Homo sapiens: one gene and its partners. The protein of the gene in region 4 interacts with the protein of the main gene of each other region in a pairwise test. Each region holds a gene or a part of one and is shown on either strand. Other genes may lie near its edges. The genes, in order: HSF2BP, TNKS, PTS and SDCBP.

Region 1 (7,686 bases), on a different chromosome or scaffold from region 4:
TTTGTTCCCTTTTAAAACATCTATTTTCCATTTATGTCTGTGTGTGTGTGTTCACCTAGGAATCTAATAAAAACAAGCCACCAATTTTTGAAGTATTCAAAGTAAAAGAGAGAAATGCTCATTACTGAATTACTTTCAAAGCTCTGAAAGGCAAAGTACATTATCTGAAGCAGTTTGGTTTCATCAGTCTTGTCTTCTCTATTTTCTTCTTGGGGCTAAATTTCTTAAACTTAATACTACTGTTTTTACAACAATACAATATAGGTTTATTTATTTCAAAATGAATGAGGTAGGCCAGGTACAGTGGCTCACTTCTGTAATCCCAGCACTTTGGGAGACCGAGGTGGGCAGATCACCTGAGGTCAGGAGTTCAAGACCAGCCTGGCCATCATAGAGTGAAACCCTGTCTCTACTAAAAAAATACAAAAATTAGCTGGGCATGGTGGTGCATGCCTGTAGTCCCAGCTACTTGGGAAGCTGAGGCAGGATAATCGCTTGAACCTGGGAGGTGGAGGTTGCAGTGAGCCGAGATTGTGCCACTGCACTCCAGCCTGGGCGACAGAGCAAGTCTCTGTCTCTCAAAAAAACAAAAACAAAGGCTGGGCACGGTGTGGCTCACACCTGTAATCCCAGCACTTTGAGAGGCCTAGGCGGGCGGATCATGAGGTCAGGAGCTCAAGACCAGCCTGGCCAACATGGTGAAACACCGTCTCTACTAAAAACACAAAAATTAGCCAGGCGTGGTGGTGGGCGCTCGCTACTCGGGAGGGTGAGGCGGGAGAATTGCTTGAAACTGGAAGGTGGAGGTTGCAGTTAGCAGAGATCGCGCTGTTGCACTTCAGCCTGGGTGAAAGAGTGAAACTCTGTCTCAAAAAACAAAAACACACAAAACAAACGAGGTAAACATCAAAGTGAGACATGTAGACATGTGAAATATTAGTAAGTTTTGAAATGAGCAAATCCAACAGCCACTCTCACCACGCAATGAGCCCAGAAGCCATTTTAGATGGGGGTAAAGTGTTAAACTTGAACACACCCCAGTGTCAGAACATCCACAACTTCTATTTATTATAACTCTTGGATAGAGAGAACCCTAACCCCATCATTATAAAAAAACTTATATCCTCCATCATCTACACTGAATCTAATATAGCATCAACCATAAGATGTACTGTTATTTTGTATGCTGCCAAAAAGAAAGCAATGATACAAATGAAATTGTCACTGGGTTGATTTTGGGATGCCTCCCCATTTTAGTCAATATTTTTAAAGTTGCAGAACTGATAAGATAGGCAGGGATGGTCTGTTTTGTTCACTGCTATATTCCCAGTGCCAAGAATAGCGTACATAATAGTACACAGTTGGCACTCCATAAATGTTTGCTAAATATATGAATGAATGAATGAATTGGGACAAATAAGCTCTTATGGATGAAAGCCATGGAGAGTGATCATTTTATGACTGTGAGCACCCAACTTGAACAGTTAAAGCAAGAGCGCAACACTGTTACTTAAAGCAATACAAAGATTTCCAATTTATTTTTAAAATGACAAAGCTATCTATTGATGTTGCTGCAGAACAGCTCATGTTTCAGGAAGAGTGATAGCTCACATTTCCTTTATGATGCCTAAGACAAGATGCAGAAAAGTTGGAGCCTGTCATCGGGAGTCGAATGTCAGGCCAAGTTATTTCCAAACTTGTGCTGTAATTGTGATGGGGCATAGCTGTGGTGGAGACCTTGTGTTTTCTTGTCCCATTATCACTGTCCACGACGTTCATGCTGCGGAGTTATTTTCTGAAGGTCCACTGTACTCCATGCAATGTGGTGGTGAACAAGATATACAAGACAAGTCACTCTGGGTGTGATAGGCACTAACCAGACAGGACTCTGGAGCACTGGTGTAAACTGGTCTTAGGCCCCCGCATAACCTCTGCATTTGCAAATCCTGGGCTGGCTCACCAAAGGGTTTGAGCAAAAGGCTCTGTCTAGGCTGTCTTAGCACCGTAAGTATTGCCTCTGGTCTTCCACTCTTGTACAGGCCAAGACCTTTTACGGTTGCATGTACTCCCACTTCTGGCTAAGAAAACAGATGGAAGCTTACGGTGTTTCGGGAGAAGGATGACACATTGATAATTAAGAAGCAATGTAGCTAAGTGCTACAACAGAGACACAATGGATGTTTTAGAACCCTGGAGGAGTAGGGCAAGATGCTAGGCGAGGCTTTTTGAAGGAAGTGATACTGAACTGAATGCTGGCAGTGAAGAAGGTGTGGGATTCTTTGCAGAGTGAACAGGAGAAGCAAAGGCAGAGAGGTGAGAAATTGTGTGCTGTACACCAAGAACCATCACCGATTCTGTTGACGGAACATGAAGCAGTTACACGGGGCTTAGGCAGGAAGAGCACCTGAGGACAGATCATGACTTGCAGACACTGAATTTCAAAAAATATTGGTGATGTGGGATCAGATTTGTTTTAGGAAGATGACCCTGGGCTGGTCTGTGGAGGACAGATTCCTGGGGACACAAGTGAAGTTAAGGAGACCAGTTGGGGAATATGCGGGCGCAGAAGTTTCGGTGAGATACAAAGAGCCCACGGTCAAGAATTTATGTCATCAGGAGGTGAACGAGGGAGGACGGGGGTCCTCCCACTGGATGTGGGCCAGGGGAAGAGGATGAGGAATTCAGAGGAGTCCAGGACAATCCCGTGTGTCCGGCTGGAATCTGAATGGCTGGTGGGAACCAGCAACCAAAAGAAAAGAAAACAGGTGGCAGTGGAGCAGCAGCAGAGAACAGGATTTCGGGGAAAGAAAACAGAACTTTTTTTGGCATCCTGAGTGTGAGGTGCCAGGTAGAGAAGCCAGGCTAGCAAGGCACATCCGAGCTGCAAGTAGGAATGGGCTGGGACAACAATTTAGGTTTAGAAACCACCAGCATATATGGGGTACCTGGAACTGTGAGACTAAACAAAATCTCTTGGGGAGATTCTTAACAGAATCAAAGTCAGGAATTTTGGTCTTTATTCCTTTTTCTATCAGACTTCCCAGGAAAGTGTATTTTCTTTTTTTGGGTAGTCTGGTGATTTCTCTTAAAAATAAAACAAACTGAGAATGTCAGTGATGGGGGAGATAATATCTGTTCTTTTAAGCAGATTCTAAATGTATTAGTACCATCAGTAACTAAATAAAACTTTATCTTAAAACCTCTATTACACATTGTAGTTCATATTGTATGGGCTCACTCAAGAGTTTATAGAAAGTATTTTTGGATCAGGTAAATGAAATCATCCAACAGCAGTGCCGTTAAAATCTAAACTACAAAGCCCTGTGTGATCTGGCCACTGCCTACATCTCCAACTTCATCTCATAACACTCGCCCCCCCAACCCCAACTTATTGGTCTTTCAAACCACTCCTAGGGCACGTGAAGCTCTTTCCTGCCTCTGCATAGGCGGTTTCCGCTCATTTCTCTTCAGATCTGAGCTGATTATCAGCCCAGAGAGGCCTTCCCAGAACAGCCTATCAAGAAGAGCAACCTCCTTCCCTTTTTGCTATTATCTGGTTTTCTTTTTCCTTTTTTCTTTTCTTTTCTTTTTGAGACGGAGTTTCGCTCTTGTTGCCCAGGCCGGAGTGCAATGCTGCGATCTCGGCTCACCGCAACCTCCGCCTCCCAGGTTCAAGCGATTCTCCTGCCTCAGCCTCCCGAGTACTGAGATTACAGGCATGCGCCACCATGCCCGGCTAATTCTGTATTTTTAGTAGAGCCGGGGTTTCACCATGTTGGTCCGGCTGGTCTCGAACTCCCGACCTCAGGTGATCCGCCCGCCTCGGCTTCCCAGAGTGCTGGGATTACATGCGTGAGACACCGCGCCCGGCCTGCTACCTGGTTTTCATTTCCTTTACTACACTTACACAAGGTCTACTTTATTTGCCTGTTTGCCTCCTTGCTTTATTACTAATAGATCCTCGAGGGTAGTGATTTTGTCTGTCTTCTCTCCTGCAGCCCCGTCACGTAAAGGTGCTGGTCAAAGGAAGGCGGCAATCACCGACCGGACACCAGGGCAAATCAGGGCAGCCCAGTGATTCGAGATGCCGGCTGGGGAATCGGACCCATGTGGGTCTTTTCTCAGCTTCCCCGCTTACTGTGACTTTCATAAGTAACGGAACCCCCTCAACCCGTTTCCTTAAGTGTAAAAAGGCACTAGACACAGCAAGAAGCGGTTCCGGCAGCGCGGAAACCGAAGCACACGCTGGGTGTCACGACAACACGTGGAAGCCGCATTCCGTGCCGGGGCCCTGGCCCTAGCCCCAGCCCCGGCCCCCGGCCCGCCATGTGGCGCGGCTGACCGCGGCCGTGCGCCCACCTGTCTCCCTCTGCGTCTTCACGCTGATGTACTGGCGCAGCTTCTTCACCGCTCGGTCCCGGATGCCCTTCTCGCTGGACGCCAGCCGCTGGGCAAATTGGATCTCGGCCGGCTGCATGGCGGGGGCCATCGCGCCCGCTGGAGCATCCCCGGCCGCGCAACCCGCGGTGCCGCTGCAGCCAGCCGAGCGCTGCGGAGCAGCCAGCCACCGTCCGCCCGGGCCGCGACTGCACAGAAGGCGGCGGCGGCGGCGCGCGGGCTGATGGCGTCACAAAGGCGCCGCGGCTCGCAGCGCGCTCTGGGAGTGAGCGCGGCAGTGGCCCTGGCAGCTGGCGGAGCGGCCCAGCCCGTGTGCACGTGGCGCCGGCGCTGCCTTTCGGTTGCCAAAATTCAGGCTGTAGACGGCGAGGTTAGCCAGGGTTAGGACTTGACCAGGAAGAGACGGAAGGCTGTTTGTAAACGGTCTAGGATTTTTTGTTTGTTTTTGAGACAGGGTCTCCCTCTGTCGCCCAGGCTGGAATGCAGTGGCGCGATCTTGGCGGTGATCCTGGCTCACTGCAGCCTCGACCTCCCAGACTCGATCGATCCTCCCATCTCGACCGCCCAAGTAGCTGAGACTACAGGCGCGCGCCATCACGCCCCACTATTTGTTATTTTTTTGTAGAGACGGTGTCTCGCTATGTTGCCCAAGCTGGTCTCAAACTCCTGGGCTCAAGCAATCCTCCCGCGGCGGCCTCCCTGATCGCTGGGATTACAGGCTTGAGCCGCCGCGCCTGGCCACGGTCCAGGATCTTTAATCCCATTTAGCACACCTCGTTGAGCCAGCAGCTTACCTGCGATCTCCGTGGCGTGGAGTTTTTAACTGTGGAGCCCCCGGGCCCCCGGGTGGAGTTGAGACTGGAAGGAAAGGCCGGCACTGGGGCCTGTTGAGCGGGTGGAGGGCTCGCCTTCCTCCAGTGCCTGCAGAGGCTTGGGCAGATCGGTGCGCCCCTACCCCGGAGCCCTGGTGCCAGTGCAAGGGCGCCCGCGCAGGCGTCCCGAGGCCTGGCGAGCACGCGCGCTTCCAGGGGAGTTGGGCAGGGCGGGCTGCTTGCTAATTCCAGAGAGGGAAGAAATCTTAGCTTTGGGTTCATCTAAAACCCGAGGCCATCCTATATTTTGCGGACTCAGCGGGCGTGCTGGGGCAAGTTAATGGACTAGGTCACTCCACACGTAGCGGGGGTTATCTCAGTTGCTCCGCTCAGTTGTCTAGGCGACCTCCCGAGGTGCCTGTTGACACAAAAATTCAACCCTTAACGTAAAAGCGCCTGAATCCGAGCGAGGGAAGGCGCGCGGAGGCGAGGTTTCCAGCAAAGACTGCCCATTTGAACGCAGTCCCCCTTAGTGTAGCATTCCTCGCCAAACAGGAAAGGACCCATCCGATTTATTTTACTTGACACTTACATCAGGGGCTGACTTTCCTTCTGCTTTGCAGATAACAAGTTTAAAACCCCGGCTAAGCCAGAAGAGCCAAAGAGGGACCTCGCCAAGGCCACTCCTCGCTCTCTAGGCCGAGAATACTGCGCAAATTCTGGGAGGTTTGGGCCTGGCGGCTCTCCGTTCCCGACCCCCGGCGTGGATTCGTTCCCGCGCTTTCTGGCGTGAGGGGTCAGAGGGCGCGCCGACGCTCAGGCGAACGGAGCGGAGGCGGCAGCGGCCATGGGCGAAGCGGGCGCCGCTGAGGAGGCCTGCCGGGTTAGTGAGGAAGCCCTGGCCGACGCCAGCGTGTTTGAACCGTCGCCATTCGCTCCCCTCAGGGCCTCGCCCCGTGCGCTCGGAGACGGCTCGCTGTCGCGTGCTTGGGGGAAGCCTGGAGACTTCCTCCCCTAACGGCGTGGGCTGGGCCGGAGCGGGGTGGAGACCTGGGGCGGGAGGCGACTTCGCCTCCAAACCCACGCGGGGACCCGGTCTGTGAGGCTGCGCGTGGTGGGGGCACTCAGTGGCGCCAAAGCGGGCATGGGAGCGTGGGATGGATGGTCACTCTCTTCTCTGCTCCGTGGAAGCCCAGTTCCCCTCCGAAGGCCCTGGCCCCCTGCTTCGGGACTTAGCGTCAGGCTTAGAGAGAATCTGCCCTCCATCGATTTTATAACTGTAACTGATTGCATGCGATGGAGAAGGCGCTTGGACTGGGGCCAGATCCGTGTTCACATCCTGCTTCCACCCGTTATTAATTGTGCTGCATTGAGAGTCATCTAGCTCCCGTGCCTTAATTTCCATCTAGACAATCTTGGAGGCTTGGGGTGAATAGTAGATGAGATCACGGGCGGAGGGCTTGGCAAACCCAGTAGGAAACCAGATGACTTCCTTTTCCTCCTGATTAGTTTGGTGCTGCAGTGATAAAAAGTTGCAGGCGTTTTCTTTGACTTTTAGGAATAGAGCTCTTGTATGACTTTTCTTTTTCGTGGTCTTGCTCTGTTGCCCAGACTGGAGTGCAGTGGCACGATCATAGCTCACTGCAGCCTCCAACTCCTGAGCTCAAGCCTTCTTCCCGTGTCAGCCTGCTGCGTACAGGCGCCGGCCACCACACCTGGCTAATTTTTGTATTTTTAGTGAGATGGAGTTTCACCATACTGGTCAGGCTGGTCTTGAACTCCTGACCTCAGGTGATCCACCCGCCTCGGCCTCCCAAAGTGCTGGGATTACAGGCGTGAGCCACTGCGCCGGGCCTCCTGGGCACGTTTTCATATTTTTGTAGTGACAGGGTCTCTCCATGTTGCTCAGACTGGTCTTGAACTCCTGGCCTCCCAAATTCCTGGGATTTCAAGTGTGAGCCACCATGCCTGGCCTGTTTGTCCTTATTATTTTTAACATCTGGCTCCCTTTTTGAAGGCTGAAGCTTCAGCTTTCAAAATGTTTGTATGTACATAAAATATATCTATAGCAGAATATACAGTAGGTAGAGACATGATTTGAAACAACGATGCACATAAGAGGTGTGAAAGAAAAGCAAGTTAACTTGAGCTGTTGTTTTTTTTCTCATGTGAAGAGAAATATAATAAGATCTGCTTGTTCTTTTAGCACATGGGAACTAAAGAGGAATTTGTTAAAGTCAGAAAGAAGGATCTGGAACGGCTGACAACTGAAGTGATGCAAATACGGGACTTCTTACCCAGAATACTAAATGGGGAGGTGCTGGAGAGCTTCCAGAAATTAAAGATTGTAGAAAAAAGTGAGTCTTCATTTTCAGCAGTCATTGGTGGTAACAGTAATTTGTTCTAGCAGATTTACCCTAGGTAAATAATTGTAAACGAATTTTAAGGTACTCTTACAGTCCTTGTGATGATATTT
Region 2 (7,621 bases), about 49 Mb from region 4:
TGATAAAGAAGACTAAAGTTTAATAAAACTTTAATGTTACGAATTCAATCACGGAAGCGTGGCAAACTGACTACAGGACATTATGTTTTCATATCGAGAATTTTATTACTGTGTTTTCCACAACTGAGCTAAAAACTTTCTTAAAAAGCCAATTCAAGGTTAGCTTGTCATAACTACAACATAATTACGGTACTGTTTGATTGTTTATCTTCTAGCTTATCTGGATATACATAAAACTCTGAAACAGAATAACAAGTAACTATTGTGGCAAATAGAAGACACGTGATTTGAGAAACAAGCACTATTTTGTGTGACTTATCCTAAATACATTAATACACATAAATATAACTATCATTTATTGGTGATTACGCATAAAGTGGGATGGTGAGAAATGACATGATTTGTGACGCAATTTGTTAAAATAGGCAAACTTGGAATAAAGTATGCAAAAGTAGACACCTCTGTTGATTAATAAAATCAGACTTAGGCCTTTCATTTAGCCTAAGGAAAAAGAAATGCTATTTCATCTAAAACAAGCAAGACCCTTGAGCAAACAAATAGGCAAAAGTCTGTTTCTGATTCAATTCACTGCATTCCTAATAAGTAGTGTCTGTATATCAATAATGAATCCAGTGACCTAACAATGATTTCCTTTAAGTGTTTCTCATACCACTGGTCACGACCCATTAATGGATCACAAGCAGCATTTGCTAAAAATGAAACAGAATAAAATATAAAATATCAGAGGACAACACATGTATTAAGGGAAAGTATTGTTTCCAGAAACTTTTGATTCAGTTGCGTATGTGACAATGTAAAATGTATTTCTAAGTATGGGCTACAATAAAAAACATGTGAAAGCTACTCTCTTGCATATAAGCCCCTCCGCATTACTACTTCTCCCAAAAATTGGGAACTCTACACTTCAATTACTCACAAAAATGAAAAGTGACCTTAATCCAGGGTTCTGACAGTTTAAGTTTGATTTCACAAGCTCTAAAATCAAACTGCCTGAATTCAAACTCAATTTCCACTATTTCCTGACTGAATTTGGACTTATTTAAGCGATCGATATATGCTTCACTTTTGTCATCTGTAAAATGGTTAATCATATCTCCCAAGTGTGGTAAAAATAAATACTACAGTGGGTCAACACATGTTTTACTGTTAACAGAACAAACTGAAGAAGTGATATATATATATATTAGAAATATAGGAGAAACTTAACAGAAGTTATCTCTGGTGTGTTATCTCTGATGTTTCTGTGTGATGCCTTTCATTTTGTATTTTTCTGTCCTATTTGAATTGTATAACGTACAATATATGTATTTCCAATATAATGTTTCTAATGTATAAAACATTATTACCTACATTTTTAAAATATCAACAATAGGTATCCAGGCAGTGAGATTATGGTCCTTTGTTTTTATTTTACAGTTCTCTTTATTTTATAAACATATTATTAGGTGTCTTTGAGAGAAAATCATCAACTACTTGCAAAAAAAAAAAAAAAGACAAGTGTGGGGTCCAGAGCTTAAGAAATTCACACTTTTTGAGGGAGAACTTTGTGCCAGATACTTCTCACCAAATGCTCGCACAACATCATTTTATGATTTTTGCCCATGAGAAAACTGAGGCAACTGACACGAGGTAAATGGTCTGCTAGACAACAAATAATAGTGGCCACAACATCAAAGCCTATATTTCTTCCATCATCATATAATGCATCCAAATATTCTTCTCCAGTTGTTTCACATTGGCATATTTTGGTCTCCCCGTCTAGACTGCAAACTTCTTTAGAAGAAGGGAAACTTTCAAACACTTCATTTATGTCTTTCATTGGGTTATTAAGGCTACAATAGATCCTCAAACATGTGTTGGGTTGTATTAAACCTCTTTTGGTCTGGACTGTCCTCAAAGGACATACCCTTGTAAAAACAAAATAAACTAGCACACAAACGACAAAACTACTCTAAAGCTGTCCAAATCTAACTGTATTCCTGCACACCAAAAACTAAAGTGTAAATATATCCATATGCAGAGACTACCAACTACAGTGAGTTTTGTAATGAGTACTGTGCAACCACTGAAGAATTCCTTGGATTCACTTATCCCCCCCAACCACGCCCCCATCACCCAGGCACCACCAAAAGAAAGGAACCTCCAGTCTTCTGGTGAGGTGATGAAGAACCATAACCACGCCCCCACTTTGTCCCATCACAATAACCTGTTTTCTTGTCCTAACCGGACCCTGCACCCAAACCCATAACCCTTAATAAACAATTCAAAAGTCTCTGACCTGCAGCGAAGTGCAGGGGAGAAGACTTCCGGCCGGCCATGTCCTTTGCATTTACGTTTGCCGCGTCCACCAGCCTCTTTACCCGGGACACGTCCCCATTGCGACAGGCCTCCAGCAGTTCCCGTAGGGCCCCGCTCACTGCTGGGACCCCTGTCCCAGGTCCTGCTGCCCCAGGCCCCAGTGGTGCTGTGCTGCTAACTCCGGCCGCCTCGGGGCTCTCCGCCAAGCTCGATCCAGGGGAGGATGGAGAGGAAGATGAGGAAGAAGTCGGGGAAGAAGAGGACGACGGTGAATTGTTACTGCCACTGCCGGCTGGGTTGGGAGCGACCCCAGCGGCAGATGAAGTAGAAACCGCTGGGACCACGGGAGCGGCGGCGACGGTACAGATTGTGCTGGTGGTACTGCAACAGCTGGTACCGTCAACCGGGTCCGGGGATCGGGGCCTGTCGGGCGGATCCCGACTGCCATCCCCCTCCGGCAGCGCTAGGCCGTGCCGCGGGGAGGCGAAGGGGGCCAGGCCGCTGGCCGTGGGAGAGGCTGGGGTGGTCCCCGGGGCCAGGCCAGGGCTGAGTGGGGGAGGAGGTGGCGGCGGCGGCGCTGAAGCCCCTGGGGCGGGCTGGAGCTGTTGTTGATGATGGTGGTGATGATGCTGAGAGCGACGCGACGCCGCCATCTTCGGACTCCCCTAGCACTGTCACTGCGGCAACGGCCCCCACCGCCCGCCCTCACTTCCGACTGTCGGACCAATCAGCATCCAGCGCACAGGAAATGATGCTAGGCGGGGTAGCAGGGGCCAAAGAGAAGGAGGGAAGTATTGGGAGCTCAGAGAACAGCCAAGGGAACGGGGCGGGGCTTTGTCACTGAGAGGCGGGCTTTGTGACGTGGTGGCGGGCCGGCTGGAGAGATTTGAATGCTGGAACCAGCTTCTGCCTAGATGGGAAACATTTCCTGCATTTCTCACTTTCAGTCGGCTTTCTTTGCCCTGCTCCGCTCTGTTTCCCTTAGTCTCCCTTTGCTTGCTCCAGAGCCAGCTGTTGAGATGCAGATCAGAGCAAGCAGGGAATGTGTCCGTTATCATCTATTAAGCGTCCTTGTCTGAAAAATGGAACTTATAGTACCAACCTCACAGAATTATTAGCGGGATTAAAAGAGCTAACAGACAAAGCGCTCTGCCAGTAAAACACAAGTATAATTAGCCCGTTGGTAATTTTTTAAATTATAGTATTTCTTTTCCAGGTGTCCCCTTGAGCTCTTGTCCCTTCCCTATAATTTTTCTCACCCTATGTGCTTTAATTCCTCGTTTTTAAATGCTGGTTCAGATTGCTAGGATTGGCGTTCCAGCTCTGCCATTTGTTGTTTATATATGTACTTGCTATTTCATCACTCTATGCCTGTTTTTCTCTGTAAAATTGAAATAACAATAGTGCAATAAGTGTGAATTATTAAAATTATGATTTTTTTTTCCTATTCTGCTCTCTCTGAAATTTTATTTTTCACCCTAAGTGTAACTAATTATGAATATATTCCTTTCTTTTGAATTCTGGCTTAGCTTAGCCTCTCCCACACCCGAAACAGATAAAAACCTGATTGCTAGGCTGGTCACGGTGGCTCATGCCTGTAATCCTAGCACTTTGGGAGGCCGAGGCCGGCGGGCCACTTGAGCCCGGGAGTTCAAGATCAGCCTGGCCATCACGGCGAAGCTCCATCTCTACAAAAAATACACAGATTAGCTGGGCAAAGTGGCACATGCGTGTAGTCCCAGCTACTCAGGAGTCTGTTGGGAGGATCACTTGAGCCCGGGAGGCAGAGGTTGCTGTGAGCCGAGGTCACACCACTGCACTCCAGCCTGGGTGACAGAGGGCGGAGACCCTGTCACAAAAACAACAAGAAAACATAACAAAAACCTGATTGCTGTCCATTACTCACCATCAGGTGCTATTTTTCAGCAACTGCTTTTTCTGTCTTTCCCCCAACCTATGTATACTTTTGTTTTTCTACTATCAAAAGATGTATCCATGAATGAGATAATCCCATTGAGGACTCCATTTCATACCTACTGTTCAATAGTAAAGCAGGCATTGTAGAAGTATACAGAAACAGCATTATTCCAATAGAGTGGACACAGATGGAAATTCTGTAAGAGAAACAAGATTTAGATGAGTCAAGCAGAATATTAAACTAGGTGATAAATTGTTTCATGTGTTCATTGTTAAATATGATTTATGTGATGTTAATATTCCCATTTAAGTAAATAGATGAGTTTATTTGGGGTTAGTAAGTAAATACAATAAGGTCAGGAACATAATTAGTATTACGAGTGGCATTTATTTTCATCTAATCTGGGGTTACAGATTATAATTCTTAACATTATCCAGCTGTGTGATGAAATGTGCCATTGTTCGCAGTAGACACCGGACAAAAAGTGTAGCTGGATAGGAAAACTCACATCAGTGCAACTAAAATCAGTCCACAACATTCTTCTTCATGCTTCTGTTTTTTAATCTTAACTTCTTGATGTACAGCAGAGAACCATTGAGAAGTGGGAGTGATCCAACATGATATGTTAGATATCCATAACACACCATGTGTCCCCTAAATAATGGCCTCCTGGAATGGGAGGCATAAGAAATATCTCATCTGGTCTCCCAGTGGTCAGTTACTCATAGAAAGTAGTGATGTTCAGACTTATTCAAAATGCATCTGTTGTGTCTATCAGTACAAAAAATAATAATAACAATAAAATAAGGAAGTCTCTGCTGGACAGAGATTTTTAAAAACTAAATTGCCGGCCAGGCCCAGTAGCTCACACCTGTAATCCCAGCACTTTGGGAGGCCAAGGTGGGCAGATCACGAGGTCAGGAGTTCCAGACCAGCCTGGCCAACATGAGGAAACCCCATCTCTACTAAAAATACAAAAATTAGTTGGGCGTGGTGGTGCGCGCCTGTAATCCCAGCTACTGCGGAGGCTGAGGCAGGAGGATGGCTTGAACCCAGGAGGCAGAGGTTGCAGTGAGCCGAAATCGTGCCACTGCACTCCAGCCTGGGTGGCAGAGCAACATTGTCTCAGCAAAACAAACAAACAAACAAAAAACAAAAAACTAAATTGCCTGAAACTGGACTGGAAAACCATGTCTGGAAATGCATTCAATCAACTGGAAATTGCTTTCTTCCCCTCGAGCAGAAAGTAGGAAAAGTACTTAACATTAAGTATTTATGAAGTTTGGGTTTATACCGACTAATGTTGAGCTCCAAACATGAAAGGACACATGCTATTACCTAATCTTCTGTGGCTAAACACAATTCCAGGAGGAATGCACTATATCATAGTGGAAAGAGCAAAGCTTGGGGTCAAACAAACCTGGGCTTGAAAGTCACATCTCTGATGATTACTAGTTGGCTAATCTTGATAGGTATGCTTCAGCTCTCTCAGCCTAAAATGTTGACCTTAGTTTAGCACTGTCATGAGGATTAAAAGCCTAGGTGTTTTTTAAGCACTCTTTGAATGTTAGATCCGTTCTCTTACATGGCATGCATAAAGTGTTAACATGAACTCACAGCCACTATTGATAGCTTTCCCCTCGCAACTTCCTTTGTGACAAAGATAGGGGCTGGGAATAAATATCCATCGTTTTACACAGAATGGGAATCTAAAGCAAAGAAACATTAGGTTTAATTCTTTCCTTATCTGATAATTCAGGATTCTTTATAAACTCTGTCTCTAAACTATTGTTGATCACAGGTGTGTAGTATCTTATTTTCATAAGCGTTTTCACAAAAACAATATCCTGGCCGAGTACAGTGGCTCACACTTATAATCCCAGCATTTTGGGAAGCTGAGGCAGGAGAATGCTTGATCCCAAAAAATCAAGATCAAAGATCAGCCTGGGCAACAAAGTGAGACCCTGTCTACACACACACACACACACACACACACACACAAAGTATACCCAAGTACTACAAAAATGGGAGCACATAGCACTCTCTTAGGCTATACTGTTGACACAAAAGAAAAGCCACCAACTCAAAGGACACCGATCTTTTGGGCTGTGTTCTGATGTTTGCTTTCTTACCCTATGGGGTTCGCATGGACACTCTGAAAATTACACAATCATGAACTTGCACAAGTTCCATATTTCAACTGGAATTGGTGTGTCATTCCATCCATATACTTCCCATTGATCTCCCACCGTATTTGGTATTCTGGTAGTATTTCTACTAAGTCTAGTTATTCTTCGATCCCCTCTGCAATGCCTCCTCCGCAAATCCACGAGCACAAGCCAGAGCTGTGGTTTGGCTGAGGCATGTCATTTCCTCATTTTTGGTCTTACCGAAACATAATAAGTTATTTTTATGTCAGAAATGTCTATGGTGCCAAGGGCCCAGATTTCTCTATAAAAGTGTTGCGTTCTCTTAGTTGAAGTTCCATCCAGAAACCCAGGTGAATATTTTTTTACAAAACCACAGATGGGCAATGATGCCAACAGCTGCAATCGTACTAACAACATTGTATCAGAAAAAGCTTTACCAAAAAAAAAACAGGTAAAACAACTTATTACAAGACAGCAAAATTACAGTAATTTAAAGATATCCTCTGTATCAGTTTCTTAGCAACTCTCCCATTAAAGTTTTAGTAGCTTTATAAGATAGCTCTTACATACCAGGGTCTTCTGGCTGCTGCTCCAAAGACATCTGTAGCCTGCACTGAGATAACTTGGATTTTTTCTGGCTATGGTCTGTACGCTCATGGGTAGTCGGTTTAATTTGAAGTGTTAGTTCCAGGCAGAGAGTTAGTTCCGGGCAGAGAGGTGGTTAAAGGTGTGGATTCCACATACAGACTGCTTGGATATGAATCCTAGCTTTGTCACTAACTAGCTTCGTATGATTAAAGGATATTACATCATACATTTTAACAGGAATAAATAAAAATCTATTTGCTGTGCTTTAAAAAAAGAAGATAAACAAGTTTTCCCACCAAAAATGTTCCTTTCCTTGTAAGCTTTTTTTCCAAAAGTAATTAAAATCATACATGTATACCCCATTACGGATTTGCATATGACTATATCACTCAAAAGAGATAAACACCTGCCCTCCCCCAAAGTCATAACCATGTTTAGAAAAGGCTCAGAAAGTCCTGAAATGCATGGATATGGAAGGGTATAACTAGCCAACAACGCATATATAATGATGTAATGGCTTATGCAGATGGATATAGCTAACCAGAATAGAGCTGATGCAACTGCAAACCAAGAGACTGCAAGGCACCCAGAGGACTCACCCTCCCCAATCAGAACATGGGGACAACCCACCAAGCCATGATGAATG
Region 3 (7,777 bases), on a different chromosome or scaffold from region 4:
TGGAACTCCATCTCAAAAAAAAAAACAACAACAACAAAAAAAAACTTTATCAGTGCTTTACACATTAATAACTTTTATGAATTTATGTATTTTAGTTCTGTACAAATACCATTAGATATTACATGTAAGTGAGTACACTGAGACTGAGATACCATAGATTAAGGAAGAGGCTGTAGCTAAACCAGTAATCCTAATCTCCTGACACCTTGTCTGTTTTTTTTTATGCCACCACACCACATACTGTTTTATACTCTACGACTTATGTACCTGTTTTTTAAGGCAGGCTGTACCTCAAAGAATCAAGTCTCTTATCCTTGAACAAATTACCTACTTTCTTCGAACACTGCTGGCAAAGCTTTAGACCAAACCTATTTTTCTGCCATACATTACATTCCTAGGCAACATTCCCCTTTTGTCAGTCATTATTTACTCAAAGAATAAAATCTAATTTTAACATTAGCCTTGGCCATACCTAATCAGAAAGAAACTTGTTGTGTACTCTAGGACAAAGAAAAATGCTTTAAACCATTCATTGTTTTGGACTGTTTGTAAGAGTTGACATTGCAAGGTAAAACTTAACACACACCCAACCAAGACAACAGATCCTTTCATTCTGAACTCCCATTTAATTTCTCATTCAAGGCTCAAAGCATTCACACTGTGTCCGTAAGTTTTCCCATTCTTTATGTCTACATTTGCTGAATACTCTTTCATCCTTATTGAAGGGCTGAAATGTCATCAGTTTTTCTCTCACCTTTATAATTGTGCCCATGGCCATTTGGATTGTTGCATTTCCCAAACAGTTTCAAGTTTTCTTCATCACTTAGAAATTTACTGACCAAAAAAAAAAAAAAAAGTCAGCATGACACAAGTATCACATTCAAACCCCCTTCTCTGTTCCTTATATTTATTATTTGTACTGATCTTTGAAAAGTTTCCCAATTTATTACTTTAGCTCACCAAAGGGAGAGTCAGAAATCATGTTGATTTTATTACTTACGTATACGTCACAAACCATGGCATATTCCCTAATTAGAAGATTGTACCATACAAATTAGCACAAACAAACCTTAACTTCAACCCCCTTGTTCCACAGCAACTGATCTGCTCATGGGCCTTCCACTTTTCAATTCAACATTACTGAGTGCCTACAATGTAACAGGCAAGTGCTGAATGAAATAACAGCATATAATGATAAACATAGATGGTGATCCGCAAAGTGGCTTACTATCTCATTTCTCTCAGAAGCTAAACTACTCATCCAGAAAAAATAATTTAAAAAAATTACATGACCTGGTAAGTCTCCTATTTAGCAATCTTGCTTTATACTATGTCTCAACTACTGCCTCATGAGAACTTTACCAATCTGTTGAGGAATATTCCAAGCAGGTGAATTTTTAAAATTACAATCTTTGGCTGTCGTCTCAGACAGAAAACAAATTGCTTAATGTTTATACTTATACCCATCCATTCAATTTCGCATCGTCTATGAGACCTTACCACCCTCAGGTGTTTAAGCTTATTATACAACCCCTTTTTTTTGAGATCCTCTTTATTATTCCCCCCAATGTAGTTTGGATGTTTGTCCCCTCCAATTGTCATGTTGAAATGTGATCCCCAGTGTTGGAGATGGGGCCTAGTGGGAGATGTTTGGCTCATGGAAGTGGATCCCTTATGAATGGCTTGGTGCCCTCCCTGAAGCAATGAGTGAGTTCTCGCTCTATTAGTCAATGGGCGAGCTGGTTGTTAAAAAAAGCCTGGCACCTCCTCTCCTCTCTCTTGCTCCCTCACTTGCCCTGTGAGTTGCCTGCTTGCTCGCCCTTCGCCTTCCACCATGAGTGGAAGGTCCCTGAGGCCTCAACAGAAGCAGATGCTGGTGCCATGCTTCTTGTACAGCCTGCAGAACCAAATAAACCTCTTTTCTTTATAAAATACCAGTCTCAGTATTCCTTTGTGGCAATGCAAAATGGAATAACACACCCCCACTTTCTCCTGCTCAGCCACTTCTTGTATTTAGAGTGCTAAAGTCTTTTGCACAAAATTTTCTCAGTGTACCCTCCACAAAATAGGCCAGATTGGAAACCCCATACAAGATCCCTGATGCATCCGTTACCTAGCACAAGCCCTGACAAGCACGAAACAAAACCTGGTTTAGCGAATGGAGGGATGAATCCTGTTAGATAGCGATGGTCATCCTCATTTCACAGACGACGATACGGAGGGCCAGAGGGTGGAGCTGGTTAGTGCGTGGTAAAATTCCTCAAAATCAACTCGTCAGTGCATGCAAGCAGTATGTATGATCGGGATTCAAATCCCAACTATGCTGCTTCGGAAACTGAACGTCTGGGCTCATTTTTTTTTTTTTTTCTCCTAGCCACTAGACCACCAGGGACTGGGTTCATCCAGTCTTTGGTAAAAAAGGGGCTAAAATTTGCCTTGTAATTACATTAGATATGGTGGCCAATGCTCCTGGCATACAAGATTAGCTAACATTTACTGAGTGTCTACGCCGCGCCAGGTACTGTGTAACATAGGCGAGTTTAACACTGCTGAGTTTCACAGCAACCCTGTGGTCTACACCAAGGGACTCCTAGGGGCAGAGACGTTTCTTCGAGTCGCAGAACCGGGTGTGGGCCCCGCACCCAGACGTGGGCCATCGCCCTCCGCAGTCGGCTCCGTTAACCATCAAGCTCCCCCACCCCTCCAGGGCTGGGGACACTCCAGCCCCCATCAGGATGCTGGAGGCCGTCCGAAGCCCCACGAAGCCGACCAGCGCGCGTCGCCCCAGCAGCCCCCGCGCCCCTCCCGGGCCCGACGTCAGCACGCCCGCCGGCCCCGCCCCGGTGACGTTCCGGGGCCCGGCGCCCACCGCCCGCCGCTGTACCTGTGTGCACACCCTACCTGTACAATCGGTGGCTCGCGCTGAAGGAGATGCGGCGGGACACTTGTGCCTGGCAGCGACGGCCACCACCTTCCGTGCTCATCTTCCCGGCGCTGTCTGCGGTGCTCGGCCGGCACCTCCTCCCGCCGCGCGGCCGGTGCCTCCTCCCACCGCGGCTGCGCAGTGCGTGCCAGACGCGCCCCTAGGAAGTGCGTCTCCGCTTCCGCTCTGGCCAATCCCGGCCTCGGGAGACAGTTAAGGGTGTCTCTCGCTATCTGAATCTCTTCGGAGAGCAAGATTTGGGATACCTAAGCATACCCTGGAGTGGTCAGGGTGGGTGGGGACCCTGTGTCCTTGATCTGTTTGCCCCGCCTGAGGTCACGCCACGTAGTTAGGGCCCGTCTGGGCACACTTTGGGTCCTGAGTGACCTCTCTGAGCCTCCTCTCCCACTCTCTCCTGTAAAGCTCCAGTGACTGGTGACTCAATCGGATGAACCCCAGGGCCACAGTCCGCTTTATAGACCAAAAGGAGCAGGAATTGAGCCAGGCGGGCGTGGTGACGCACTCCTGTAGCCCCAGCTATTGAGAAGGAGAGGGATCACTTCAGCCCAGGAGTCCAACCTGGGCAATAGAGCAAGACCCTCGTTTCTCTTTTTCTTTTTTCTTTTTAATTATTATTATACTTTAAGTTCTAGGGTACATGTGCACAACGTGCAGGTTTGTTACATAGGTATTCATGTGTTATGTTGGTTTGCTGCACCCATCAACTCGTCATTTACATTAGGTATTTCTCCTAATGCTATCCCTCCCCCAGCCCCCTACTCCCTGACAGGCACCGGTGTGTGATGTTCCCCACCCTGTGTCCATGTGTTCTCATTGTTTGATTCCCACCTATGGGTGAGAACATGCAGTGTTTGGTTTTCTGTCCTTGTGATAGTTTGCTGAGAATGATGGTTTCCAGCTTCATCCATGTCCCTGCAAAGGACATGAATTCATCGTTTTTATGGCTGCATAATATTCCATGGTGTACATGTGCCACATTTTCTTAATCCAGTCTATCATTAATGGACATTTGGGTTGGTTCCAAGTCTTTGCAATTGTGAATAGTGCCACAATAAACATACAGGTGCATGTGTCTTTAAAGTAGCATGATTTATAATCCTTTGGGTATATACCCAGTAATGGGATGGCTGGGTCAAATGATATTTCTAGTTCTAGATCCTTGAGGAATCGTCACACTGTCTTCCACAATGGTTGAACTCATTTACACTCCCACCAACAGTGTAAAAGCATTCCTATTTCTCCACATCCTCTCCAACATCTGTTGTTTCCCAACTTTTTAATGATCGCCATTCTAACTGGTGTGAAATGGTATCTCATTGTGGTTTTGATTGGCATTTCTCTGATGGCCAGTGATGATGAGCATTTTTTCATGTGTCTGTTGGCTGCAGAAATGTCTTCTTTTGAGAAGTGTCTGTTCATATGCTTTGCCCACTTTTTGATGGGGTTGTTTGATTTTTTTTCTTATAAATTTGTTTAAGTTCTTTGTAGATTCTGGATATTAGCCCTTTGTCAGATGGGTAGATTGCAAAAATTTTCTCCCATTCTGTAGGTTGCCTGTTCACTCTGATGGTAGATTCTTTTGCCGTACAGAAGCTCTTTAGTTTAATTAGATCCCTTTTGTCTATTTTGGCTTTTGTTGCCATTGCTTTTGGTGTTGTAGTCATGAAGTCCTTGCCCATGCCTATGTCCTGAATGGCATTGCCTAGGCTTTCTTCTAGGGTTTTTATGGTTTTCGGTCTGATATTTAAGTCTTTAATCCATCTTGAGTTAATTTTTGTGTAAGGTGTAAGGAAGGGATCCAGTTTCAGCTTTCTACATATGGCTAGCCAGTTTTCCCAGCACCATTTATTTAATAGGGAATCCTTTCCCCATTTCTTGTTTTTATCAGGTTTGTCTAAGATCAGATGGTTGTAGATGTGTGGTGTTATTTCTGAGGCCTCTGTTGTGTTCCATTGGTGTATATATCTGTTTTGGTACCCATACCATGCTGTTTTTGTTACTGTAGGCTTGTAGTATAGTTCGAAGTCAGGTAGCGTGATGCCTCCAGCTTTGTTCTTTTTGCTTAGGATTAATACCGTTTCTTTAAAAAAAAATTTTTAAAGAGCAAGAATTTGAGAGCACAAATAGGACCACGTGACAACAGTCCTTTGGACTGTTGTGTAATGATCCTTACTAAGGGAAATTCTAAAGCCATTCTTATCCACAAGCATGTATGGACCCATTTATTACTCTGGGTTGGCATAGTGTGAATACAGACACCCCTAAACACATATTAGCAATTCTTCTGCCAGTGTAGACACATTGAGAGTGAAAGGATCTTGTTTCCTCACATCTACTCACAAGAGTAACCAAACTACACACAGTTCCCAGAATCATGTCACCTCTTGCTTCCATTCACTCTTTCACTAAATATTTATTGGGCATCTACTATGTGGCTGGCATTGTTCCAGGTACTGGAGAGGACAGCTCCACTCTATATGAGAAAAATCATCACTGTATATGATGAAAAGCAGGACAAGTCACTGATTAATAACAGGCTTGGAAAAGTTTCCTGTAAAAAGAAAGATAAAATCATGGGGGCGATAGAAATAAGCTCAAATGGTGATTTCCCTCAAATATCTCCTATTTACAGCTATATATTCTGTTTGTTCTGCATTAAACTACTAACAGGTTATTTAGCAAACACTCTCCATACATTTTCAGATGTTTGTCTCATCTACCCCATTGTACTGTAAAGAAAAAACTTCAAATAACATTTAGAGATTTTCGAGATAGAGACTGTTTAGTTCAATACTTTCACTTTACAGATAAGAAAATACAGCCACAGATAAGTGAATTACTATTGCGAGATCACTCAGAACAGAAACATTATTTCCCAGGTATGGACTGCCTCAGTGATAAATACTCTCTAACAGTCAGTGGTTACACAAATAGTTGCTCATTCCAAAACCAGCTTAAAGAATCAAAATAAAGTGAAAGAGTAAGAGAAATTTCTGCAAAATTATTTTTATTAATAATACTTGTTTGTTTTAGTAAAATATTTCACTGCATTTGCAGAGTTGAAGTTTAACCTGTTTGGAAATAGGATTGTTGCACACGTATTGAGATGAGGTGTTTAGGATGGGACCTAATCCAACATGACTAATGTTCTTGTAGAAAGGGGAAACTTGGACTCAAAAACTGACACATACAGAGGGAAGATCATGTGAAGACACAGACAACACCATCTCCAAGCCCAGGAGAGAGAACTGGAACAGATCTTTCTTCAAAGCCCTCAGAAGGAAAAAACCAACTTTGATTTCAGACTTCTAGCTTCCAGAATTGTGAGACAATTCATTTCTGTTAAGACCTCTGTGGTACTTTGTTATGGCAGCCCTAGCAGACTAACACACTAACCAATAAGCAAATAACATTCCTCTTAACTTAGCTTTCAGTGCCTTGAGATCAACAGCCATTTAGGTATAGTTCTCCCTTCACTCTTGCAACATTTACTGGCTTGTGCTTGGCTGCGTTGTCTCAGAAGGCTAGCTTCTACTAAAAGATCCCATAAGGGCCCCTGGCCAGCCTTCCTGCCTCAACTCCCCTGCTGTCTCCAGGGGCAGGTGGCAGGCATGGGTACCTGCATTTCACTGGAGTGGGTTCTTGGATCTCTGAGGGGAAGGAACAGCAGAAGAGGCCCTTCTTCCTCACCCAAGATGCAGGTGGTTGGGGCCAGGAGTTTGGACCCTCCAGGTCTTGGGGGAATAGCTGGGTAATACCTGGTGTCTGAGCGATTCTCTGCAGACCCTTCCCCTCCTCAAGGACCACCCATCCTCCTTTCAGCCCCCTTTATGGGGGCCGGGCAGCTCTGGAGCCAGCCACAGAGTCTCTTACAGAAGCAAGGCCTGGAGTGGCCTGCACCAAGAAGCAGGGTCAGGGTTCGTGTGCTCCTCCTCCTGCCACAGGGGCCGCACATCCCATTGCCCCACTTCTGCTTTCTGTCTCCCTCTGTCTAGCTTCTAGGGCAGGAGCAGGCCCCACCTAGGGCTGCAGGCAGTTTGGCCTGTGCCAGCACGGGCTCCTGTGCCCACCAGCCTCACAGGTGCTGTGCTTTGTGCTCTTGGCTGCTGTGCTGGGACAGAATGGGATGCCAGGAAGAGAAGAAGAAGAAAGGGGGTGCAGTCTGAGGCCACCACCCTCCTTCCTATCTAAGGGAGGGCTGAAGACAAGGGGCTGGCATTCAGTGGGTAACAGAAAGGAGAGGCCCCTTGAAGCTGCTCAGTCAAAGGGCCCCTGTCCCTCCTTTTGCTCTCCCCAGGACTAAAGACCTGAAGGGGCTGGGTGTGGGGCTGGCTTTTGGAGTGTCAAGGTGAATATGTGGGAGCAGAGATCATGAATAACTCAGGGCAGTGAATGGCGCACCAAGGGCAGGGCTGTGTGTGGGAGGCTGCGGCCAAAATTGCCTCAGCTCCTCCCCCTCAGGCTGGGAGGCTGGGGGCTGGGGGTGGGGGTGGAGGGTCTCAGCTCTGCTGCCCCCACCCCAGTACTAGCCTAGCTTCCCAAGCTGGGGCTTAGAGGATAGTTGGCTTCCTGCCTCTCTCCACTAAAACAGCAAGTCTGGGAAATCCTGGGGCGAGTGGAGTCAACCCACACCCCAGTTGCTGGCAGAGACTGAGACTAAAGCATCACTTAATAAATACCCCCAAGCCCCCCCACCAAAAAAAAGATCCCATAAGGTACTCCAATGGACATATATTGGCAAGGTAGGCCCCATATCTATCACCTTCTGGTCCTCATTCACTTATTAAGTTAAAAAAAAAGTGTTTATTTAACATCTAATGAATGCCAAGTGCA
Region 4 (7,022 bases):
CTATGAAAATGAATGAAATACTGATACATGCTCCAACACAGATGAACCTTGAACATATGCTATGTGAAAGAAGCCAGATGCAGAAGGCCACATATTCTAAGATTCTAGATTAAGTATCCAGAGCAGGTAAAAACAGAGGCGGGAAAGTGTATGTTGCCTGGAGCTGGAAGGAGGGTAGAATGGGGAGGCATGAGTTTTCTTTTGGGGAGGATGGAAATATTCAAAGATAGGTAGTGGAGATGATTGTAGAAGTCTGTGAATATACTAAAAACCATTGCATTATATACTTTGAAAGGCTGAATTTTAGAGTGTGTGAATTAAATTTAAAAAAAAAACTATCTCATACTGTCCAACTAGGAGACAGAGACCATATAGTGATTTTAACAGTGGAGGTTTAATACACAGAATTACTAGTTATAACATGATTGAAGAAATAGAAATTGACTTGTAAGAAGTAAAGACAACTTTTAAGAATACTGTAAGAGCAGACTTAATAAGTAGCCACTAACTCTAGGGCTGTTCCCATACTGGGGCTGAGATTCAGGTCTGGTTGAAGAGGGGACAGATGTCACTGGCAGATGCTGAAGTTGCCGGATACCATGCTTCTGGAACTTATTCTCCCTCTGGCATTCTGAACCTTGGAATTTGCTGCAGAAGCCACGTGAAGGGGTTGAGAAAGCTGCTCAGGGAGATTCCTTGGTGGTGGCATTCTGCTGCAGAGTTACTCAATAGAGTGCTGGGGTGAGCTTCTGCATGCTTGTGAAACTACTCCTGGCAGGAGTCTGGCTAGAGTAGTACGTTGGAACCATGAAGAGAAAAGCTCTTCCTCCTACAGTGTACCTCCAGTTGCCTCTACTGACAAGGCTTAACATCATGCCAGCTGGTAACAGAGCAATGTTGAAAGAGCTCAGCTCCATTTTGGGAGAGAAAGCAATAAGAAGTGGATTTGGAAATGGGAGGTAATAAATTGATACCTGAATCAAGAATCTTACGTTAAACCACATACCAGTTTAGCATATATTCTGTTTTATTGGGTTGAGTGAAAGTATCAGGTATTCATCTCAAAACAGCTAAATAAAATTTAAAATATGCATTCATATAATACATTTAGAGAATTGTGTTTTAAATTATTACAAAAAGCAATTTATAACTAAAAAACATACTTCTACTTAATACAGAAGTATTTTAAATGAAAAGTAAAAATTTCCCTCTTATTCCTCACTCCTTTACCATCTGTCTTCTGAAGAAAAATCTGTTAGCAGTTGATATAGTTTCTTCTGTATACATATATGTGTGTATATATTTTTCTTAGTAATAGAGGTTCATGTATTGATACTGCATATGATCTGCTTTTAGGCTTTTATTGTTAGAAGGAAATGTAGCTGTGTAATGCCCAAGGGCATTGTACTAAGGGTAGTTTCCTAGTCCTGGCTAAGTTGCAAGTACTTGTGTAAGTTAGGAGTAAGTCACATAACTATTCTATTTGATTTTCTAAATTTGTAAAATGAAGGGACTTTTACTTGAATTTTAAAAATCGGTGATGGATATAGTTCAATAATACTATTAGGGGAAGGAGAGGTAGTTTGGTAATTCTTAAGTATCAGCTAACTTTTAGTATGGCCTATATATTCTTATTTTTTAATATGTTTTGCAATTTAAATGTTTTTTATTGAGTTAAATAGTTCTACTTGTTTATGTGTCTGTGGTTAGCTGTGTATACTATTTCAATTTCTATGACATTAGAGTAATAAAACTTTCTTTTTTTCTTTAGAAGAATCCTGCAAAAATGTCTCTCTATCCATCTCTCGAAGACTTGAAGGTAGACAAAGTAATTCAGGTATGATAGTTTAAATACTTTTGTCAAAACAAACACAGTAACATGCATTCTACTTATAGGTGAAATAAAGCAAGATAGCTAAATAGCAGATATATTTGTTCATTTTTACACTTCATAAACCTTTTTTTAGTTTTATTAATTGCAGACTGAAAAGTTTACAGAAAAATTAGCAATTTTTTTTTTCATTTCACTGTGAATTAATAGGCATGAGATTTTTTTAATTCGACTTACACTTTTTACATTTCTGGTTAAAATTTAATTATATGTAACATATTTGAGTTGACAAAATATACTCCAATTTTGTAGATATTCATAGTTTTGTATAAAATTGGTATATTTTTCTTTTGGATCTTTAGGTATGACCACTCTTTAATTCTATGTCTCTTAACTGAAGTTAAAATTACAGAAATAGTGGCGTACATGCTGCTTTTAGAAGAGCAGTCATGTAAGAGCACAGGGAAAGTGTAGTGATTTCTTTCCTTTGAGAGATGAGCAGCAGACATTTCACTTGTTCATTCTCTAAATGACTGTGTAGAGATTGCAGTATTTCTAATTGCATTGAGTTGAAAATTTTTATACTCCTTTGTATAAGTATTAGCTTTGAAGACAAATGCTTCTGCTTAAGAACAAAGTGAGGAATTGGGACCAATTCTGGCTAATTGGGAAATTTTTGGTAATTATTTTAATTGGGGGTAATTTGTAGTATATGATGAATTTGTTTACGGTTAGCTTTCAACTTGATCTCTTATCAATTTAGAATTTCTTCAGCCGTTGTTTATTGTTTTAATTTGACAAGATAAACGAAAACTCCTTACCCTGAAGATCATTTTATTGGGTCCCTGTCTTCAATTTACTAGAAAGTGAGATATTCAATTTACTTACTGATAATTGAATTATGAACAATTATTTTCTATCATAGATCCAGTATGGATATTAAAATGAGGTTTGTAAAATCTCTAAAATCTACAGTTCAGCTGCCAAGGCTTTGATGCCTCAAAGTTTCAAGTGGCCTATTCAGTCATCTTTTACATGTTCCTATCACTTCTTTAGTATTTTGTCAGTATTTTCTTCATGTGGTTTTTATTTCCACATAGTTCATCTAAACAAGCACTTTTCTTTTTAAAAGGCCTTTATCTGAAATATTTAGCTTTCCAGAATAACTGCTTAGCCATTAATATGACATCAATACATTAACTGATAAGGATTTTTAGATGGACCTGTAAGAATGACTAATCTGTTCTTTGTTTTCATCCTTTTTTTGTTAGCTTTTTATGGAATTGAATGTAAATTCACCATAGTCAGATATGAGCTGAGGCTTTTGGTTTTGAAAACAGCAGCAGCAGAAGAGTTGATATTGACAAATATTGGAATGAAAAATAAAGAGGGCTACAATCTGTATCATGCTGCCCTCTTTAAGCAGAAGTGAATTACATAGATATTTACATTAAAGAACGTTTTATGTTCAGAGCAGAAAGCAGCTGGGAGATAGAACAGTGAATAAGGAGTGGGAAACATGGTTCTTTTATTACCCCTGAATTTAAAAATATTCCTAATTTAGCCATTAAACTCTTTGGCTGTTTTTGTTTTGTTTTGTTTTGTTTTTTTGCATCATTTTCTAAGGTGGATGATACTCATGTTTGTTTTTATTCTTAAGATTCTCCTGAAACGGTATTATGAAGGAAGGTAGTATTCATTTTCTCATCTGCTGGCCTTTAACACCACAGCAAAGCTAAATTACAGCAATGAACCAACCATTCATATTTTGTAAACTATTCTGCAGTAGCCACTAGGCTGTGGCTTTTAGCATCATACAGTCCCTAGACCTTTTTCTCTCCATTCCAAATCCTGACAAGAGCCTGTGGTTTCCTCTACTTATGCAAAGTAAGCTTTTAATAAATAATGATATACAGAACCAGAGCTTATCAGTTTCCTAATATGGTGGGCAGAATTTGGCAGCAGTGACGCTACAAGCATGTTTTTTCCACATCCTTTCTGTTAATGGCAGAAACAATAGGCCCTGGCATGCTCCTTGGGGCACCCCAACCCCTTTTTTTAGTAGTGTCACATTTCAAAGTAAGTTTGAAATAAGTAGCTACATTTAATGGTTTACAGTACTTAAAATTGGGTTACATCCTTTTGTTTCATTTTTACTGCAAATAACATAATTAAATTTAACTTTGCAGGGAGCTTTCTATATGTATTCTTCAGTATTCCTTGGATTAAAAACAATAGCAATGAAAGAACAGAAATTCATAACTACATACAAAGGAGAAGTATTTTAAATTAATAAGCTGTGTTTTAGAGCAATTTTAGATTCACAACAAAATTGATCAGAAAGTACAGTATACCTTCTGTCCTCACACATGCACAACCTCCCCCAGTATCAGCATCTGCACCAGAGCAGTACATCTGGCTCATTAATATCACCTGAAGTCTACATATTTACATTACATCACATTAGGGTTCACTGTTGGTGTTATATGTTCTGTGGATTTTGACAAATGTATAGTGACGTGTATATAGTCATGTGTTGCTTAAAGACGGATATGTTCTGAGAAATGCCTCATTAGACAGTTTTGTCGTGCAAACATTATAGAGTGTACTTCCACAAATGTAGATGGCATAGCCTACTACACATCTAGGCAGTATGGTATAGTCTGTTGTTCCTATGCTACAAACCTGTATGATCCCACCTGTATGATACAGTAATACTGCATGTTACTGTACTGAATACTGTAGGCAATTGTTACACAATAGTATTTGTGTATCTAAACACAGAAAAGGTATGGTAAAAATACAATGTAAAAGATTTAAAATGGTACATCTGTATAAGGCACTTACCATGAATGGAGCTTCCAGGACTAGAAGTTGCGCTGGGTAAGTCAGTGAGTGAGCGGTGAGTGAATGTGAGGCCTAGGACATTATTGTATACTGCTGTAGACTTTATCAATACTCTATACTTGGGCTGCACTAAATTTATTTAAAAATTTTTCTTTCTCGAATTATAAATTAACCTTAGCTTCCTGTAACTTTAATTTTTTAACTTTCTGACTCTTGTAATAACATAGTTTAAAACACAAACATTGTACAGCTGTATAAAATATTTTCTTTCTTTATATCCTGATTCTATAAGCTTTTTTCCTATTTTTTAAATTTTTAGTTTTTAAAAATCGCTTGTAAGTTTGTTAAAAACTGAGACACACACTCACATTAGCCTAGGCCTGCACAGGGTCAGGATCATCAATATCACTGTCTTCCACCTCCACATCATCCCACTGAAAGGTCTTCAGAGGCAGTAACATGCATGGAGTTGTCATTTCCAATGGTAATAGTGCCTTCTGGAATACCTCCTGAAGGACCTGCCTGAGACTGTTTTACAGTTAACTTTTTTTGTAAGTAGAAGGATATACTCTAAAGGGTATAACACAGGAAATACATAAATGAGTAACATAGTCATTTATTATTATCAAGTATTATGTACCATGCATAATTGTAGATGCTATACTTTTTTATATATGACTGGCAGTGCAGTAAGCTTATTTACACCACCATCACCACAAAGTAATGAGTTGTTCTGTGTGACGGCAGCTATGATGTCACTAGACAGTAGGAATTTTTTAGCTCTTTTATAATCTCATGGGACCACTATTGTATATGTGGTTCATCATTGACCAGAACAGGCAGCACATGACTGTATACCATTGTAGCATTAGACAGAATAGGTTCACTGCTCGAAAAATTCTTTAATGCCTGTTCTTCCTTCCCTTCTAGAAACTCCTGGCAACCAATAATTTGCTTTTGCTTTTGTGTTTTCTTTAGCGTCAGGATGTCGCTCTGTTGCCCAGGCTGGAGTACAGTGGCACAGTCATGGTTCACTGCAGCGTCCATCCTCCTGCCACAGCCTTCTAAGTAGCTGGGACTACAGGCATGCACCACCACACCTAGCTAGTTTAAAAAGAAAATTTTTTTTTCCCCCAAAACGGAGTCTGGCTCTGTCACCAGGCTGGAGTGCAGTGGTGCGATCTTGGCTCACTGCAACCTCCTCCTCCTGGGTTCAAGCAATTCTCCCTGCCTCAGCCTCCCGGGTAGCTGGAATTAACAGGCATCCACCACCATGCCCGGCTAATTTTTGTATGTTTACTAGAGACAGGGTTTTGCCATGTTGGCCATGACAAACATGACAACATGCCATGTTGGTCAGTTGAACTCCTGACTTCAGGTGATCTGCCCACCTCAGCCTACCAAAGTGCTGGGATTACAGGCATGAGCCACTGTGCCTGGCCAAAACAATTTTTTGCATAGGCAGGGTTTTCCTATGTTGCCCAGGCTGGTCTTGAACTCCAGGCCTCAAGCAACTCTCCAGCTTCAGCTTCCCAAAGTGCTGGGATTAAAGGCCTCAGCCACTGTGCCTGGCCTAATATTTTATTATCTCCACAATTTTGCATTTTTCAAAATGTCGTATAGTTGGAATCATAAAGTATGTAGCCTTTTGAGATTGGCTTCTTTCACTTAGTAATATCCACTTAAGTTTCCTCCATGTCTTTTCATGTCTTTATAGTTCTTTTTTTTTTCCCAGTGCCGCACAGTATTTTTTTTGTTAGACATGATTCAAGAAGTAATATAACAAGCCACTAGCTCCTTTTAGCTAATCGGTGGTGAAAGAACTTTCAAAGTTCAACACATGTTCAATTTGTGGATTGTTATTTATAATTATAAAGATTTTCATGCTGTATTTTGTTTAAATCTAGAATGTTTAACAAATTATGAAATAATAAATATTAAAGGATGACTCAACAAGTATATCAGAACATATAATTTTAGTACCATTCAAAGCTTTCATAGGCTTTACTTATTTAAACTAAGCTTTCATATCTCCAAGCATCTTTGGGAATACTCTTGACATTGATTTTAGGGCTAGGTTGAGATACTACTATGAACTTCATTTTTAAAATGATACATTTCCAATAAAGTAAAAAGTTGGTAGAGATTGGTCATACAACTTATTACCAAACTTGTCTCTAATGACATATAGCTATTTCAGAAAGTCAGATCTAATTGTAAAGGATAAAGTATTTCCATCAGTGAGATACTTCATATGATGTAGGCCATCAAGACAGCCCTGAGAAGAGGATACTTGAGCATGAGTAGCATTGATAAATGCTAGAGTGTCAGAGTGTGTCAGAGT

The links.
Region 1: the proteins of SDCBP (region 4) and HSF2BP interact in binary tests that used the Homo sapiens proteins (3 or more experiments, as listed by UniProt).
Region 2: the proteins of SDCBP (region 4) and TNKS interact in binary tests that used the Homo sapiens proteins (3 or more experiments, as listed by UniProt).
Region 3: the proteins of SDCBP (region 4) and PTS interact in binary tests that used the Homo sapiens proteins (3 or more experiments, as listed by UniProt).

The regions. Positions count from the first base shown.
Region 1 is NC_000021.9:43,656,468-43,664,153, reverse strand, and holds the start of HSF2BP (heat shock factor 2-binding protein), read left to right. Parts: upstream 1-4,665; 5' UTR 4,666-4,768; exon of another isoform or gene 4,769-5,833; 5' UTR 5,834-6,057; coding exon 6,058-6,093; intron 6,094-7,416; coding exon 7,417-7,567; intron 7,568-7,686. Other genes in the region: RRP1B (ribosomal RNA processing protein 1 homolog B), read right to left, coding at 4,360-4,489. UniProt on the Homo sapiens protein: Meiotic recombination factor component of recombination bridges involved in meiotic double-strand break repair.
Region 2 is NC_000008.11:9,551,291-9,558,911, reverse strand, and holds the start of TNKS (poly [ADP-ribose] polymerase tankyrase-1), read right to left. Parts: upstream 3,001-7,621; 5' UTR 2,973-3,000; coding exon 2,300-2,972; intron 1-2,299.
Region 3 is NC_000011.10:112,221,651-112,229,427, reverse strand, and holds the start of PTS (6-pyruvoyl tetrahydrobiopterin synthase), read right to left. Parts: upstream 3,001-7,777; 5' UTR 2,985-3,000; coding exon 2,902-2,984; intron 835-2,901; coding exon 755-834; intron 1-754. UniProt on the Homo sapiens protein: Involved in the biosynthesis of tetrahydrobiopterin, an essential cofactor of aromatic amino acid hydroxylases. Catalyzes the transformation of 7,8-dihydroneopterin triphosphate into 6-pyruvoyl tetrahydropterin.
Region 4 is NC_000008.11:58,563,248-58,570,269, forward strand, and holds part of SDCBP (syntenin-1), read left to right. Parts: intron 1-1,771; coding exon of another isoform or gene 1,772-1,786; coding exon 1,787-1,837; intron 1,838-7,022. UniProt on the Homo sapiens protein: Multifunctional adapter protein involved in diverse array of functions including trafficking of transmembrane proteins, neuro and immunomodulation, exosome biogenesis, and tumorigenesis.